Regions from separate parts of the Homo sapiens genome. Here region 2 is linked to region 1. A link means that fine-mapping ties the variant in region 1 to the expression of a gene that starts in the linked region. Tissue or cell type: subcutaneous fat. Region 1 holds a variant in brackets; the other region holds the start of a gene. All regions are shown on one strand. Distances are from middle to middle.

The links. PIP is the estimated chance that this variant, and not a neighbour inherited with it, causes the effect.
Region 2: it holds the start of LINC02995, and the variant in region 1 is fine-mapped to the expression of LINC02995 in subcutaneous fat (GTEx, PIP above 0.99).

The regions. Positions count from the first base shown.
Region 1 is chr5:173,670,579-173,678,578 of GRCh38, forward strand. No RefSeq gene overlaps it. Among named protein-coding and RNA genes, the nearest start is that of LINC01942, 15 kb to the right of the region's middle. RefSeq lists an enhancer at 1-21. The variant G/C (reference allele first, on the strand shown) is at 4,334.
Region 2 is chr5:173,576,193-173,584,192 of GRCh38, forward strand. It overlaps LINC02995 (long intergenic non-protein coding RNA 2995), which reads left to right and starts at 3,442. Exons shown (of 4, transcript NR_027108.2): 1 at 3,442-3,490; 2 at 4,037-4,183; 3 at 7,086-7,716; 4 at 7,918-8,000.

The DNA.
Region 1 (8,000 bases):
GATTTGAGAGACCAGCACAATTATTCTGGAGATCATTAAGATTCTGGGGGAATGAGTTTTCTGGTTTTGCTTGTGATTTCCATTTTTCTCATTACTGACAGAAGCTGCATTTATGGATCTTTCTGTTTAAAACAGGAGCTTCTCGGGCTGGTTTTATTTTGAATCGGCCTCCCCAAAAGGCATAATGTCAAAAGCTTAAATGGGCTCATCTGGGCTGAATGTGTGAGAACCCCGGCCCCTCCCACCCCCACCAACTTTTTTTTAAAATTTTTTTTTTTCTTGCCTTTGGAGATGGGATTCACGGGCGTGGGCAGGCAATTAGATTTTAAAGCGGGAGAACTCCGTTGCACTTGCCAGGAACTGCTGAAGCAAGCAGGAGAGCCCGTGGGCTTTGAATCCTGGCACGGAGGCAGGCGCTCCCGGCCCAGCTCTCGTAGGATGGGTGAGAGGAGTGTGTTTGTCTTTGTTCTGAAAAGGGAAATTTAATTTCATTCCCTGAGCACTATCTGCATGGCGATTCCATAGCTAGGCGATACTGGCTTTCAAAAGCCTGGGCCATTGCCTAGTTTGGGAAATGTCAAGAGTTGGCATGGTCCAGCAGAGGGTCAGCTTCCAGTGGCAGGCCAGTGCCCAGGCTTCATGCTCAGCCTTCATCTGTGGCCCCGTTCCCAGGAGGGCTGCTATCTCTCTAAAGATCGAAGGACTTTGTGTCCCCAAGCCAGCCTTCTCACATGCTGCCGGCTGAGTCACGAGGTTGGGGGCTGACGTCTGATTTCAAAGCCACTGAGAAAGAAATGCCAACACTCGTTCAAGAAGCTGGCTGGTGCTGTGCCTAGAACTCTGGACTGGAAGCCGCCTGGAGATGGATCCGGACTTGGAGGAGCCCGTTTATGGGACCCCAGACCATGCTGCTGCTCTCACGGAGCTTATCTTCTCACAGCGGCGGGTGGTAGGGGAAGTACATGATGAAATGAACAGAAAGATATTGGGTAATGATAAGGGATGTGATGAAAATGAGACTGAGTGATGTGAGAGATCAGAGGGCTTCTCGGAGGAGGTGACATTTGAGGTGAGACCTGATGAGAAAGAGCCAGCCATGCAGAAATCTGAGGGAAGAGCATCCCACACAGAGAGAACAGCAACTACAACCCCACTGAGCAGAAAGCCAGCTTGGCATGTCTTTGGAACAGTGAGGAAGCCAAAGTGGTTCCAGCGTGATGAGCGAGGGGGAGAAGATGCCATGAGATGAAGTCAGAGTGATAGGCACTATCGTAGGAAGGAGTTTGACTGAGATGCTAAATATTTTGCAGAATTTTTGGAAGCAGGGGAGAGACAGCTGACCTGATTTGTATTTTAAGAGGATCACTCTGCTTTGTGCATGGAGAATCCATTGAAGGGAGCACAAGACAGGAAGCAGGGTTGATCATCAGAGCTACTGTGGCAAATGGGCAAATGAAGCCATTTTTATCTTCCTGTGACAAGGCAACTTGTCACCAAAGGGACAGGACATCCTTCTTCAAGTCAACATTTCTAGGGTTTTGCTTATTCTGAATATGGTGGAGGCTATGGTGGTTTACTTGAAGGTATGGTTTACTAACCAGATCCCAGAAACTCACCTGTGTGTAAGAGTCTGATTTCTCGAGCATTCGCAGCCCTGCAATAGCAAGTCAGTGAGAATGGCCTTGAGCACAGCGTCTAATCAGAGCAGGCCCCCACTGGAGTACCAAAAAGGCTGTGAGGGGCACCTGTGACAGTTTGTGGTGAACAACTGTGCAGCAAGACAAAGTAATACAATCCACGTCCGATTTTTAAGATGCATTCCAGACCAAAGGTCAGGTGCCTCGCTGTCTATAGAAATCAACATACAGCTAATATGTTACATATTGATGTCCTATGTATTTCGTAGCAGTCCAAAGTGATCAGTAGCTACATAGTATAAAAGGGAGACAAGTTGTGCCCATTTTATTGCACGTGGTGTTGTATACTATACAAACTTCTTAAATTCTTTCTGATTTCTAATCTTTTACAAGCTGAAAAAAATTAAAATATCAACAAGGTTAAATATGAGAAGAAGCAAAAAAATGCAGAAAAATTTATTTGAGAAGATTTGACAGTTCTTTCAATTGTTATGCTGGCAGGGGCAGGAGGATGCAGAGAAAAAGTCTAAAGAAGAATAAAAGAGCGTTGACTGAGGAGCAGGAGAGTTTGCAGAAAAGACTAGATGAGAATGAAGACTAAGTGACTTCGAGGGGCTTGGGGAGGGGCTGCTTGAAGATGTCAATGTGGGAGATGCTTCCTGTTGGTGAGAACCAGCAGAGGTGTGAGACCCTCACTGTGCCCAGTGCCAAGCCCCCACATTGGAAAAACAATAGAAGGAATGCAAAAAGGATCCACAGTCCTGGGAGACCGAGCTAACAGGCCCTGTTTCATCTTGGACCATGTGATGCGGAGGTTCCTGTTTCAGGTGCTGACTTCCTAATGAGGCCCTGCGTGGAGAGGTGGCCCCGGGATGCTATCTATCACACAGTGATAAACAAGGCAGCGACTGTTTCCTGTCCTTTTCTGCGACTGAATCCAGTCTCATCCGTCCTCCTAGGTGACGACCCATAGTCAACATCCTGCTTTTCCCATTCACGGCTGAAGGATAATGATGCCGGTTTTCATTGTGCTTTCGGACCTTGGGACATGAAGGGATAGGCTTTCTTTCCTGCCAGAGATAGGGAAAGGGTGGATGGGAGGGCTTTCCAACAAATGCTTCACCTTCCTCCAGTTGCATAGGAGTGGGGAGAGCCGAGGGAAATGCAGAGAGGCAGCCCTGGGGCTCCTGAAACCAGGCCAAGAGGTGCATTCAATCAAGGACTGACATTTGCCCATTGACCTCTTATCGGAGTTGCTAAGTCACTGGGGCCTTTGTGCTGCAGAATTGGAAAGGAAGGGTTCACCCAGCCCGGCCAATCCTGTGCCAGCTCTCTGCCCAGGAGCTGGCCATTAGCATTTACCTGACATCTGACTGATATCTTCATTTCACTTTGGTAAACAGGCCACCTCAAGGCCAAGGTGACAGTGACCTCTGGCGCTGCACACCGCACAGGATTCTCCCTGGGGACCCTGGCGAAGCACTTTCGCATCGGCAAGAGCTCCTATTTCCCCTCCCCACCCTCTGATTAGTGCTGACGATAAATAAATAACCATCCAACAGAATAGACAGCGGGCAGGCAAGCTGGACAGAGAAAGAGAAGTGTGGAAGGGCATGAGGGAGGGTTGGGAGAGGCAGAGGGGGAGTCGGACTTAGAAGGTTGCCTCTGCTGCTCTCCCACTAAGAACAATGCAGCTGCCCAGGAAACACACCCGAGCTATGAATAGGCTCAAGCACACAGGGCGAAGCTGTCGCATTTCTGCCGTTTAGAAAGGATCTCTAGTGTGAAGTTGCTTGGAGGCTCTGATTTTGCAAACCCAATTAAATATAGATTTCTTTGGGGTGACGGTTGGGAAGGGTGTGGGTGGAATGTATGTCTGTGCTGCAATGCAATTTAATCCTGAAAGTTTCAGCAAACCTATTCACACACTCCATAAACATTTCTGAGCACCTGCTGTGTGCCAAGTGCAAGGCACATCCAGCTGAAGCACACTTTGCCCCCCAAAAACCCATGGTCCAATGGAGTTGCAATGGCTACTACCTACCAGGGTCAGGCAGGCAACATGAATGAATGAATTAGGGAGGGTGTGGGACATTAGGGAGCGGTGGGGACTGTGAGAACGAAGTGCATGTGTCCTCTGTACAGGGACTGGGGAGCTATTCAGTCTCAGTTGACTGTCCTGTATTGTGCCTTATGATTTTTAAGGGGAAGCCATATGTTTGGAATTGCTTGTGTGTGTGTGTGTGTGTGTGTGTGTGTGTGCGCGTGTGGTTTTTATTTCTATTTTTTTTTTCTTTAAACACTGTGTGGGCCAAACAAACCATGTCTGTAGGCCTATTGGGACCAGAGAGGATCTTCTAATAACATATAATAAGAGTGACATAGAAGGCATCCCAGGGGCTAATGGAAGCCCTAAGTGGGGCATTTAACCCAGCCAAGGGTGGAGTTGGGAGTATCTTCCCAGTGCAGGTGAACTGAATCTTGGATAATGTTAGCCTAAATCATGGCCTGGTAAATCATGAATGATGGTGTAAATGATTGGAAGAGCCATTCCAGGCAGAGTAGTAATTTAGCTGGGCACTTTGCACATGCCTGCCCAGCTAAAGACTACATCTCTCAGCCACCCTGGAAACCAAGCATGGCCACCTGACTCATGGTATCTGTCTCAGTCCTTAAAGGGAAGGAGGGTTCCATTT[G/C]TCTGCACACCCCCGCCCCCCTTCCTTCTGGCTAGCAGGCGTGGTTGTCGCCAGCATAGATTGTGGAGCTGGCAACTCGACTTCTTTGGCTTCAATTTCTGTAAAATTAGGATATTATCTACTCTGAGAGATTTTGAGGGTTAAAGGCTTGATACTTATAAAGTATTGAGAACAGTGCCTGGCACATACATGGGCTGCCAAGGCATCATCTCATCAATAATTTTCTGTGGACGGTATTCTTTCGCAGCACTCTGGGGAAGGCAGAGCAACAAGAGGGCAAGAGCCTGGGTCCCCGTCCCAGACCTGCACCTGCACTAATATGTGAGAAGGCAACTGCACTCTCACCTAAGGCCCAGTGTTTTGAATCTCTGATGCAGCAACCAGGCTTACAATGAGTAACTCAGAGATTGGGTGGGGTTCTTCCTGGCCAGTGAGAACCAGAGAAAATGGCCTCAAACTGCCCCAAACGGCATGGCCTGTAAAGTCCAGAGTAGCACTAATCCCCAGGCACATGTGGCTCCTGGAGCCTCTGCCTCATGAGCTCAGCTTTCTCCTGTGCCAACCTGGCCTGACACATTAATGTTCTCAAGTGACCTAGCCCATTCTCTAGTTTCCATTCGTCAGCAACGACAGCCATTGACATGACCACCATGTGAAGAATTGCTGGTCTAAGCTGGCTTCACTGAAAGAGGTTTACTGAGTGAGTGCCTGGATGGAGCAGAGCGTGACCATCACACAGACATGACCCCCTGCGGAGGTATCTCCCACCCCAAGTCTCCTTCCCCTCTGTCCCAGGAGCCCATTTTTTCCAGCTGTGTCTGTGCAGAGGCCACACCTCCCAGAGGCTCCTCCTACCCAGGACTGCCTGGCAGGAATTGAAGGGGAGCTATCACTGGCAGACACGGAACTCTGCTGTTACTAGACCTTGGCTCAAGGAAGGCACTGCCAAGCCTATCAAGTTGGCACAACTGCCTAGAATGCTTCTACCCAATCTTCCTTCCCTCTGTCCTCCACTCAGGGTCTTGCATCACATGGCCTGACTGCTCTCTCTACCCTCCCTTCCACCCATTTTCTCTCACAGGCATTTGCCTTCATGAAACCCCTGTGCATTAACTCCCATCTCGGCATCTGTTTCTCCTGTAATAACAGTCTGCCAAAGTTTCTTGGAAGAAGAAAGAGATGCAATTAGTTCTTTCTCACTTAGGGGACTTAATCTACCCCCAGGACGATTTGCATATCTAAACAGAACAATACCTCACTAAGGGTGGTATTTCAGGCACCTGGAATACATGTGGGTCATGGTGGAGCTTCCCCAGGTGCCCTCAGATATAAGGGTCTGTTCTGTCCTTAGACAACTGGGAAAGTGAGGGTGCAATGTCTGGGAGTTGGGAAAGGCCTGGAGCTTTGACTAAGCCTGTTTCAGTCTCTAGGAAGCAATGGGAGGTATCTCATGTACCAGTTGGTATGCTTTAGGTAGCAGGTAAGAGAAACCCCAATGCCAAATGGTTTAAAGAAGAAGAAAGATCTATGACCCAAGGCAGGGTGTCTCCTGGGGTTCTCCACATTTCCAAGCATCCAGGTTTCTTCTACTGTCCTTCCTTTCTGGGGTCCTGGGCCTGTCAGTCCTGCCTCAAGTTGTTCTCCTCATGGTGCCAGGATGGTTGCCATAGCCCAGTCATCACACTCAAATGTACTAATGTTCAAAGGCAAAAAGAGACTGGCATTTTTGTGTTTCTCATTTTAAGAGTGAGCAGTTTTTCCCAGAGTCCTTTAGCAGGACTGTGGTCAAAATCAGATCACATGCAGTTTTGTATTCATCGTTGTCAGGGGGAATGAGATTGCATGTTCGGCTTGGACAACTGGGATTTAGTCTTGAGCTAGGAATAGTTACCTTGCCTGAGGAGTGGAGATCAGAATATGACTAGGTTTCTGTTAGCAGAGATAAAAGTGGAGGATGGCTCTTGGGAGGAAGGCAATAGTGTCTTCTGCAGCCTGCACGGGTTTGAAAAACGTGTTGATCCGTCCTCACTTTTCACCATTCAAGGTTCTCACTCTCTATTTTTGCTGAACTGTCTTTTGCTTTCCTTGATCTCAAAAGGCAGGAATTTCTTCTTGGTCTCTTGACTACAATTGGTTCTATTTAGCATCTTGCTGGTAGCCAGAATTGGTCTGATTCCTGTAGCTCATTTTACTGGTAAGTTAACTTTTGGCAGCAAGTGATTAAAATTTTTAGAAGTAATCAGAAGTAATGAAAGATCATTTAGAAATAATAACCTTCTATGTGATTTTATATTGAACATGACCTCTAAGTTCCCTTCCAGCTTAATGTTGCACCATAGGAACACAAGCCAGGTCAGCTTTGGGTGACCCAGGTCTTGGTTCTGGCATGCTGTGCAATTTGGGACAAATGAATGCTCCTCTCTGGGCCTCAGACTGTCAATCCAAAAACTGATTGGGGTGGGTTAGATTTGGGATGACAAATCACTTCATTTGAGCAGCTAAGTCAGCCTGAGGCATTATGCTAAAGACGACTCAGAAGTTCAATGGTGGAAAGTGCCATAATCCATTAGTGATGTCTGCCAAGGGTGTGAGATGGGAGAGGATTAGCACACTTTTTGTTGACTGAACTAGAGAATCTCAAATAACCCTTTAGCTCTACTATTCTTTGGTTTGAATTTCTTTCTTCCTCATAATTTATAGTGAGATTTTCAAGAGCCAATCTAGTGTGATAAGGAAATTGGCCTCTGATGGACCGGAAGCTGTGTGACCTTGGGCTTTTGGTTTTCAAACACAACATCATTTTGCCACTAGAATTCCTCCATCCATATAGAATCAGAAATAAAATCTTGGTCTGTATCCTCTTTACAAATGAACATGTCCTGCTTTATAGGCAGGTGCAGGTGTTGATATAGATACAAATATATAGATGAATATATGTGTGTAAATACATACACATGTTACATATATGTATACATACATACATATACTCATATGTCTACAAAGCAAGCATGATACATACTAATTCATTCACTTAGTCATTCAACATATATATGTTGCAATCCTATTATGTGCCAGGCATCGTTTGGGTGCTGAGATACAGCAGGGAGCAAGATGATCAGTCTCTGATCTTCTCAAGGAGAGATCTGAGACTGATCATCTTGGAGCTTTTATTCTGGGAGGAGGTTTTATTCTGGTCACAGAGAGAGAGACAATAAACAAATGAGTACATATTATTACATCAGTGTTGTGGAGAAAAATAAAACAAGATTGGGGGTGCAAGGTGATCCAGAAAGGAAAGTCTTACTTAGGATGAATTGAGATGCCTTCTTAGGTGACACCAGGTAGAAACCTGAAGGTGGTGAGGAAGTGAGCTCAGCAAAAACAAGACAGAAGAACATTCCAGGCAGAGGGAACAGCAATCACAAATGCTGTAAGGCAGGAATGAGCTTAGCAGCTTCAGGAAACAGCAATGAGACCAGTGTGTAAGTGTGTGTTCAGAGGAACACGTTGCCAGAGGAAAAGAGTCTTGGGAAGGGCAGGTGAGGTCAGGAGGGGCCATGTATTGGTCAGTACAGGCTGCCATAACAGACTACTGCAGACTGCATGGCTTTAACAACAGATACTTGTTTTCTCACAGCTCTGCAGACTTGAAATCCAAGATCAAGGT
Region 2 (8,000 bases), 94 kb before region 1:
ATCAACAGGTAAACTGCAGGTCTGATACGGATTGACAGGTGCCACTCAGAGTGAGTACGGGTGGCAGAAACTCAGAGGGGTCCGCCTGCCCAGTCTGGGATTGGGAAAGGCATCTGATTAGTTTCTCATGGCTGTTGTAACAGATTACCACTACCTTAGTGGCTTAAAACAACATAAATGTATTCTCTTATGACACTGAAGGTCGTTAAGTGTGAAATCAGTTTCCCTGGCTATAGGTGTCATCTGAGCTGGTCTTTTCCGGAGGCTCCAGGGGAGAATCGCTTCCTGGCCCTGTTCAGCTTTGGGAGGCTGCCTGCATCCTTGCCTGCAGCCCCCTTCTCCTTCTTCAAAATGCACCCCTGCAACCTCTGCACCCAACATCACACGGCCTTCCCTGCTGCACTCAAATGCCCGTCAGCCTCCCTCATTATGGACACTTGTGATGACATTTAAGGCCCATCTGGATAATCTAGGACACTCTTGCCATCTCCACATCCTTACCCACACCTGCAAAGTTCCTTTTGTCATAGAAGGTAGCATTCCTGAGTTCCAGGGATTGGGACATGGACATTTTGTGGTGGGCATTAGTTGGCCTGCACAGCTGCCTAGAGCAGACATCTCTGCAGCGGCAGGCCAGAAGAGTGAGGGTGCTCCTGGGTGAGGGCCTTGGTGGAGTGGCAAAGGCAGGGAGGGAGAAAGCCTGGCATAGTCAGGGAAGGACAGATGAGCAGGAAAGGCTGGCAGGGGCCAGATCTCATAGGGTCTTGAAATCTCAGCTTAGTCCTGAAGGAATTGCGTCTTGCACAAAACCTAAACATTGAGTGAAGGCTGTTGTCTCAGCCAGGGCCCTAACAGGACACAGATGACACACTAAGATGGGTAACTGAAGTGTGGGTTGATAAAGACGCTGTCTGCAAAGGGGTGGACGGGGTTAGGGAAGCCAGCAGAGCATGGAGCATGCCTGGGACTGACACAGCTGTGAGGTGCTACTGTCTCTTTGGGGAGCTGTGCCTACCCCTAGACCCGAAGAGAGGAGGCCAGGGAGTGGCTATCAGAACCCAGAGAGGGTGGCTGTGTGGAGAAGCACATATGAGTCTGCAGTAAAGGGACACAGCCTACCTGTGGTAACCTGGCAGGGAAGGACCGGGGGTAACAGATGTCCAAGTCCATTCTTCCTGCCCTGTGAGGGCCTGCCCATGCTCCCATTGGCCAAACCCCACTTGAAGCCAGAGAGCAAGAGTGATTGTCCCCATGGCATGGCTGGGTGGGCACAGCAGGGAGGAGGAAGATGGGGTGGGGACAGAGACACCCAGCGCAGGTGTCACATGGGGAGTAGCACCACCAGATCATTGTGGAGAAAGATCACACTGGCCGTGATGTGGAGGGTGGACCCGAGTGGGACAGAGGAGGAGGTGGGGAGGTCAGGGCATTCCAAGTGATTTAAAAAGCACATTAAAAAATGCATTTCCCTAGTTAGGGGTCCATTTACCCGAAGAGGTATCTGGGATTGTTCTGCTCCCAGCTGTGTCTGGTAGAGTGGAATTCGTCCCAAAGTTGCTGTTATATATCACACCAAATGTCTCCCTTGCAAAGGTGCAGCGCCAGTAGAAGGCCTCAGGCAGGCTTGGTTGCAAACAACAGAAACCACTTGTATTGAGTTTAAGCAGAAATGGGATTTATCACTGGCTACTTGGGGGCCCCAGCATCTTTTGAATGACCTGGGAACTGGGCTCTAGAATATGGCCCAAACGTGCCACCTACTGCAGAGCAGCTCCAGGAAACAACACGGCAGCCTGCCCTGAGTAGGGCAACTGCAAAGGGGCTTCCAATGTCGCCTCCCCGCCAGGGTGGAGCCCATGGGACCTTGCTTCGTCCTGGAGCCCCTGGCTCTGAATCTGAGTCTGGTGCAGGTACATCTGTATGGTGAGTTTGGTCACATGCCTGCACCCTCCTGTCTGAGAAATAGAGTTTCTGGCTCCTCTAGACAGTCAGGGACTGAGGAGGCAGGAGCTCCCCAAAGAAAAGATGTTTGAAGCACTGGACAAGAAGAAAGCGGGACGAATGTTCATTACAGGTAAATAAAGGTAAATTACTTTAAAGCTCAGACCGTCAGGTATCCCAAGGAGAGACGGCATGCGTGTGAGTGTCATGTGTGTGAGTATCATGCATGTGAGTGGTTCCATCCTTAGGAAGAAAAACATGGGAGGAACCTGCAGTGTGCAGCCTCTGTCCAGACCCACCTGCTGAGGGGCCCAGGCACCCCAAAGTATACCCTAAATATGATCAGATCCAGGGAGCATTGTGACTGAGTTTTCAGGTTAGCCTCTGTGCAACCTGACTTCCCATGGGCAGGGTGGAGTGCTGGGAGCATTGATTCAATTCTTCCCTTGAGCACTCTTCACCCCCATCTCTCTCCAGAAATGTACCGAGAGTCTAACTGCTCTATACTCTGGGAGGAACACGAACATGATTCCACCTCAGTTCCAAGCTTTCTGAGAACCATCCTGGGAACCAGCAAGCATGACAACTCTCCACCTTCTGCATCAGTCACTTGCAAGGAGGCCAGTGGGCACAGTTCATGCTACTGAGTGAGATGGCGCCCAGAGGCCAAGGCCAAGGGCAGGGCTGCATTTTCTGGTTCTTTTATATTTGTAGCAAGATACTCTTAGTGGAAGAGCCCAATATCTGGGCTTGCCTAAAAGTCTCCTTAGCTAGATCATTCAATTTATGAGCTTTCCATCTTGTTGCAGTGTTGCTTAATTTCTGCCTCTCCATAACAAGAATCACCTTTCTTCCAGTCTCTAATGCATTGTTCTCACTTTCCTATAAACCCTCACCAACATTCTCCTCCCACTACTGGCTTCTCCAGTGCCCTTTAGGCTTTCTCTGACACTTTCTTCAAAGTCCTTTCAGCTTCTGCCCTCTGCTCAGTTCCAAAGACGCTCCCACATTGGTAGGTTTATGTTCCATCAGCACCCCACTTCTGGTACTAAGCTTTATATCAGCTATCTACTGTTAGGCAACAGCCAAAACTTAGTGACTTAAAACAGACACAAACATATATTATCTTTCACAGTCTCTGTGAGTCGGGAATTCAGGAACAGCTTAGCTGGGTGTTCTGGCTCCAGGTCTCTCATGAGGTTGCAGTCTAGATATGAGCTGGGACAGTGGTCATCTGAAGGCTGGAATGAGGCTGGAGGATCCACTTCCAAGGTGGCTGACTCAGATGGTTGGCAAGTTGGTGCCGGCTGCGGCAAAGGCCTTGTTTTCTCTCCAGGTGGACCTCTCCACAAGGCTACTTGAGCAGCCTCACAACATGGTAGCTGCTTCCCCAGGGCAAGTGATCCAAGAGCAAAGGTTGAAGTCACAATGCCCTTATGACTTAGCCTTGGATGTGACACACCATCACTTCTGCAGTATTCTACTGGTAACACTGACCAGCTCTGATTCAGTTTGAGAAAAGAGGACACAAAAGCATGAATAACAGGAGGTAAGTTTCACTGAGGGCCTGTGGATCATCTGGGAGCTGTCTACCACCAATAGTCAAAAGAAAAAATTAGGTATAAATATATGCATACGTGTGTGTATATATATATGTATGTATAATTTTAAAAATATATATTTATTATAAAAGTAATTAATATTATTTGTAGAAATTTAAAAAAAATTTAGAGTAGCAAAAATAAGACAGTAAAGATTACCCCATAATAGCTCCATGCAGAGAAAAATCATTATCAACATTTTGGGGTATATCTTATCAGCCTGAACTTTAAACATTTTTACAAAAATGGAATAATACTGGACAAAATCTTTCATGCTATCAATTTTTTCATTTACTAGTACAGTCAAAAACACAGTTTTATTGCATCTTTTTTCATGGTAACATTATATTCCTGCCAGTGATTAAGATGTAATTGATTTTTCCAATGCGCTATTACTGGACATGTAAAGGTTCTCAAATTGTTACATCATTAACAAAACTGGAATGACCATCTTCAGAGCTAACTTGCTGTCTTTATCCCTGATCTTTCCTTAGGATGGATATAGAATACCAGCATCAGCAAGTGTACACGATTTAAAGCACATTTGGTATCTATTACCAAGCTGCCCTTCAGAGAGGTTGTCTCGTTACACATTCCACAGCTGTGACTGAGAAACCGTCTTGTCGCATTTGACAATCCAGGTTACTATCTAAAAACTTGAGTTTGTAAGAGCAACACGCCATGAGATAATATTCGTGCAAATGTAACTGACAAAAGACTAACATCCCATAATACTAGAGCACCTACAAACCAAGAAGATAAACATCCCATTGGGAAAGTGTAAAAATATGAACATAAAGTTTACAGAAGAAAAAACACAAATGGCTCATAAACACACAAAAAGATGATATTGCTTCCTGGTAATTGGGGAAATGCAAACAAAAACTACAATGAAATATCGTGGTATCGTGTATCAAATTTGCAGAGCATAAAATAGATTACATTCGCAACCAGCAACTACAACCCAACCTTCAGCCTCACTGGACTTCTTGCCATTCCCCAAACCATATCCACGCCCCTCTCCACAGGCTGTTCCTTCTGCCTGCATGCCCTCGATGGCACCAAGGGGGATGGGCACACTAACACAACTGCTGGGAATGGGAAAGTTTCAACCTCTTGGGAATAAAATCTAACAGTATTTATTGGAATGTAACCTGTGCATACTCCACAGCTGGGCCACTACCCTGCAAGAACCCCTCTGGCTGCTGCACAAAGCTCTTCTCTGCATCCTTTTTTATACTAGTGGAACCCTGGACACAGCCTGCATATGGATCAAAAGGGCAGTGGTTATAAATATACTATGGTCCATCTCTAGGCTAGACTGTGATGCAGTGGTTAAAGCCAAGTATTGCAGAAGAGTGATTAAGCATTCGTGCTCCAAAGCCAGATAGCCTAGGTTTCAATCCCAGCTTTGCCACTTACTTGCTGTGTGATCTTGTGCAACTCACTTAGCCTTTCTGTGTCACAGTTTCTCCATCTGTATAACGGACGATAACACTAGCCCCTACCTCATAGGGTCATTGTGAAGAGTAAATGAAATTAATATTGCCTATGTCACAGAGTGATCCTCCTCAAAATCTATTAGATGAAAAAAGAAATTTCTAGAAATTATCTACATACATATTCTGATGGGATTTGTGTAAAGAATTTAACCAACAAACCCATATTACACACACATACACACACACTCACACAGACACACTCACACACACACACACGCACTCACGTGCGTAGAAGTAGATCTAGGAAGATCCATGACACACATGCGAGGCAGGTGAATGGGGACATTAAAAGGAGGACTTCCACGTTTAATTCTGAATGGTCTATTTTATTTGTGCAATTTTTAAAAATCAAAGCAATAAATCACTGTAAAAGAAACCTGCCAGGTTTTGAGTCTTACCATTCTACCCCGGGCTCACCCTTCTCTCTCATTGAATCTCAGGTGTCTTCGGGATCATTTAGTTTAGAAGAGGAAGAAATGTCCCTGGACCCCACCAGTTGAACACTAATGCTCCTTTGGGGATTGCGCCCTCACTGTCTCTCTAAGCATCTGTGGATTGGGGTCTTGTCCCTGCGGGCTCCTCCCGCCTACTCAGAGTGCGCCCTCTGGTGGTGATAACTTGCAGTACTGCGCGCCCACAGCACGTGTGGGGAAGGCGAAAAGCTTTGCTGATTCTCCCAGGGGCCTCAGCCCAGGAGCCCTGGGCTTTGACTCTGGGTCTAGTGCTAGTGGTGGTACCAGATCTCTGTCCCTTGTCGAGGAAGGACACTCTCTATTTGTTTTTAAGTTGTCTCTATCTAGGATTGTCAGATTTAGCAACTAAAAACACAGGATGCCTGGTTAAATTTGAATTTTAGAGAAATCACAAATAACTTTTAGTATGAGTATGTTGCATGACATCTACTAATTTTACACAACTCATACTTATATTAAACAAAATTATTTGTGGTTTCTCTCAGGCTTAAATTCCACTGGGCGCCTGTGTCTTATCTTGTGACTGTGGGAGGAGATCTGTTGGGAAGCGGGTAGGGGAGGTGGTGAGAAAGGAAGGGAGAAGGCCTGGGTATGGTGTGTGATGGAAGGGCACGATGGTTCAGGCGAGTCTTTGGTTGCAGGAGACTGTAAATGGCATCTGCTCTCCAGGCAGCTGGAGCTGTCAGGCTGTAGAACAATGCTGCTCAGCCCTGGGAGCTTTGAAAACCTGACGTGTGGGTCTGATTCCCACAGATTCTGATGTCATTGGTTTGGTGGCATTGGGGTGAGGGTAGGCTCTGGCATTTTTTAAAGCCCCAGGCAATTCAAATGTGCAGCCAAGGTTGAGGACCACTACTCTAGGGGATCTGCAGTGTGTGCATGTGTGCGTGTGAGTGTGCATGTGCGTGTGTGCGCATGTGCGTGTGTGCACCCACTCGTGTATCCCAGATGCCTTCAGCTTGCATATTCCCAAGTTCACCAGTCTGGGGTCCTTCCCGAGAGCCTCCCAGTCCACATGTTATGGAAAAGCCTTGGGCCCTTTCCAAGATGTTTCTAGATTCCCCCAGGGCTTATATTTTACTGGTCATCCCTGGCTCTGATTTCCTGTTCACACTGAGCACTCCCATCTCATTCCTTTCTTCCCCCGGGACTGTGTTTTCTTTCTGCCTGTCAACTTAATGCTGGTCTTTCAATGACCACCAGCAGCTCACAGCTGTCAAGTTTAGCAGATGTTTCCTGCAGGTCTGCAGTTAACAAGAGGTGTCATCCCCAAAGTAAATGATTCTACACTGAAGTCCCCATCTGGGCGGGGAACTCCTGCTAGGAGGAATTTATCACTGGCCATTTCCTCCTCCAATTCCCTCTGCCTCATTTTTACTTCTAGGCCCTCTCATTCTCTTTCAGAAATCACTTTGTCCCCTCCCAAAAAAACAAAGAAACAAAAACAGAAACAAACCCTTCTTCCTCTAGCAGTCAGCATGCAGCTGCTGATCAAGTTCCAAATTGCAGTTCCTTTCTTAATCAGAACAACTCAACTCATTTTTCCTATACCTCTCCTATGTGTCCAGGTATTTCCGAGAGTGATGCATGCTCCTTGGGAAGCATTGGGAATTCTGCACTTCTGGGCCAGCCAGCTCCAACTGCAGCCAATGTTTAAAAAATAGCATCTCTCCCTTCCTTCTATATGTACAGATCTTCAGGGATTTAGCAAATTCTCTTAAATAGCTAGAAGACCTTGCTGACTTCGATGCAAATATTCTGGCCAGAGAACTGAGGTCCTTGGATGAAACCCAATAATCAGAGGGGTCACAGTTTCCTTAGCCCAGGAGGAAGGCAGCTGGTGTCTCAGCAGATGTTCCTAAAGGCCTGGCTTTTTCCACATCTGTTCTGTGTGGTAGACAAGGAGAAGAGGAAGGGAGGAAGGGAACAGAGAGGAAGCAGAGAGAGCTGAAGATTAAAACAATACTGTACAGGTCCCCGCTAAAGATGGACTCTCTGGCTGCCAGGAAAGGACTGAGAGATAAATAGGAGGAGCATAAGAACCTGGGAGCTGGAGGCTGGTCCACCTCCCTCAGCTTCCAGGACCCAGAGGGAGGCAGGCACAGCCAGCCTTGGCCCTGTGGAACCAACACCTTCCAGCCAGGCTGCCAGGAAGCCAAATTCCAAATGTCTAAACTGTATTTTGCACTTTTCCACAAGGTGACCTGCAGCTGCTCTGATGGCCCCTAGGATTCTGTAGGGTACTGTGCAGTCCAGAAAACTTGACTTCCCAATTCTTCCCACTTAGCCAGCTGCCATTTCCTTCCCTCCTAACCACTTTCCTTCCTATTCTTTTCCCTCTGTATTTTCCCCCTTTGTTTTAAAAGTTCAACATGAAACTTTACTCTGTACACTCATCAGGTCAGCAAAAATTAGAAAGTCAGCTAATGCCAAGTGTTAGCTGGAGTAGGGGGGGAAGAGGAACCCTTGTTCTCTGCAAGGGA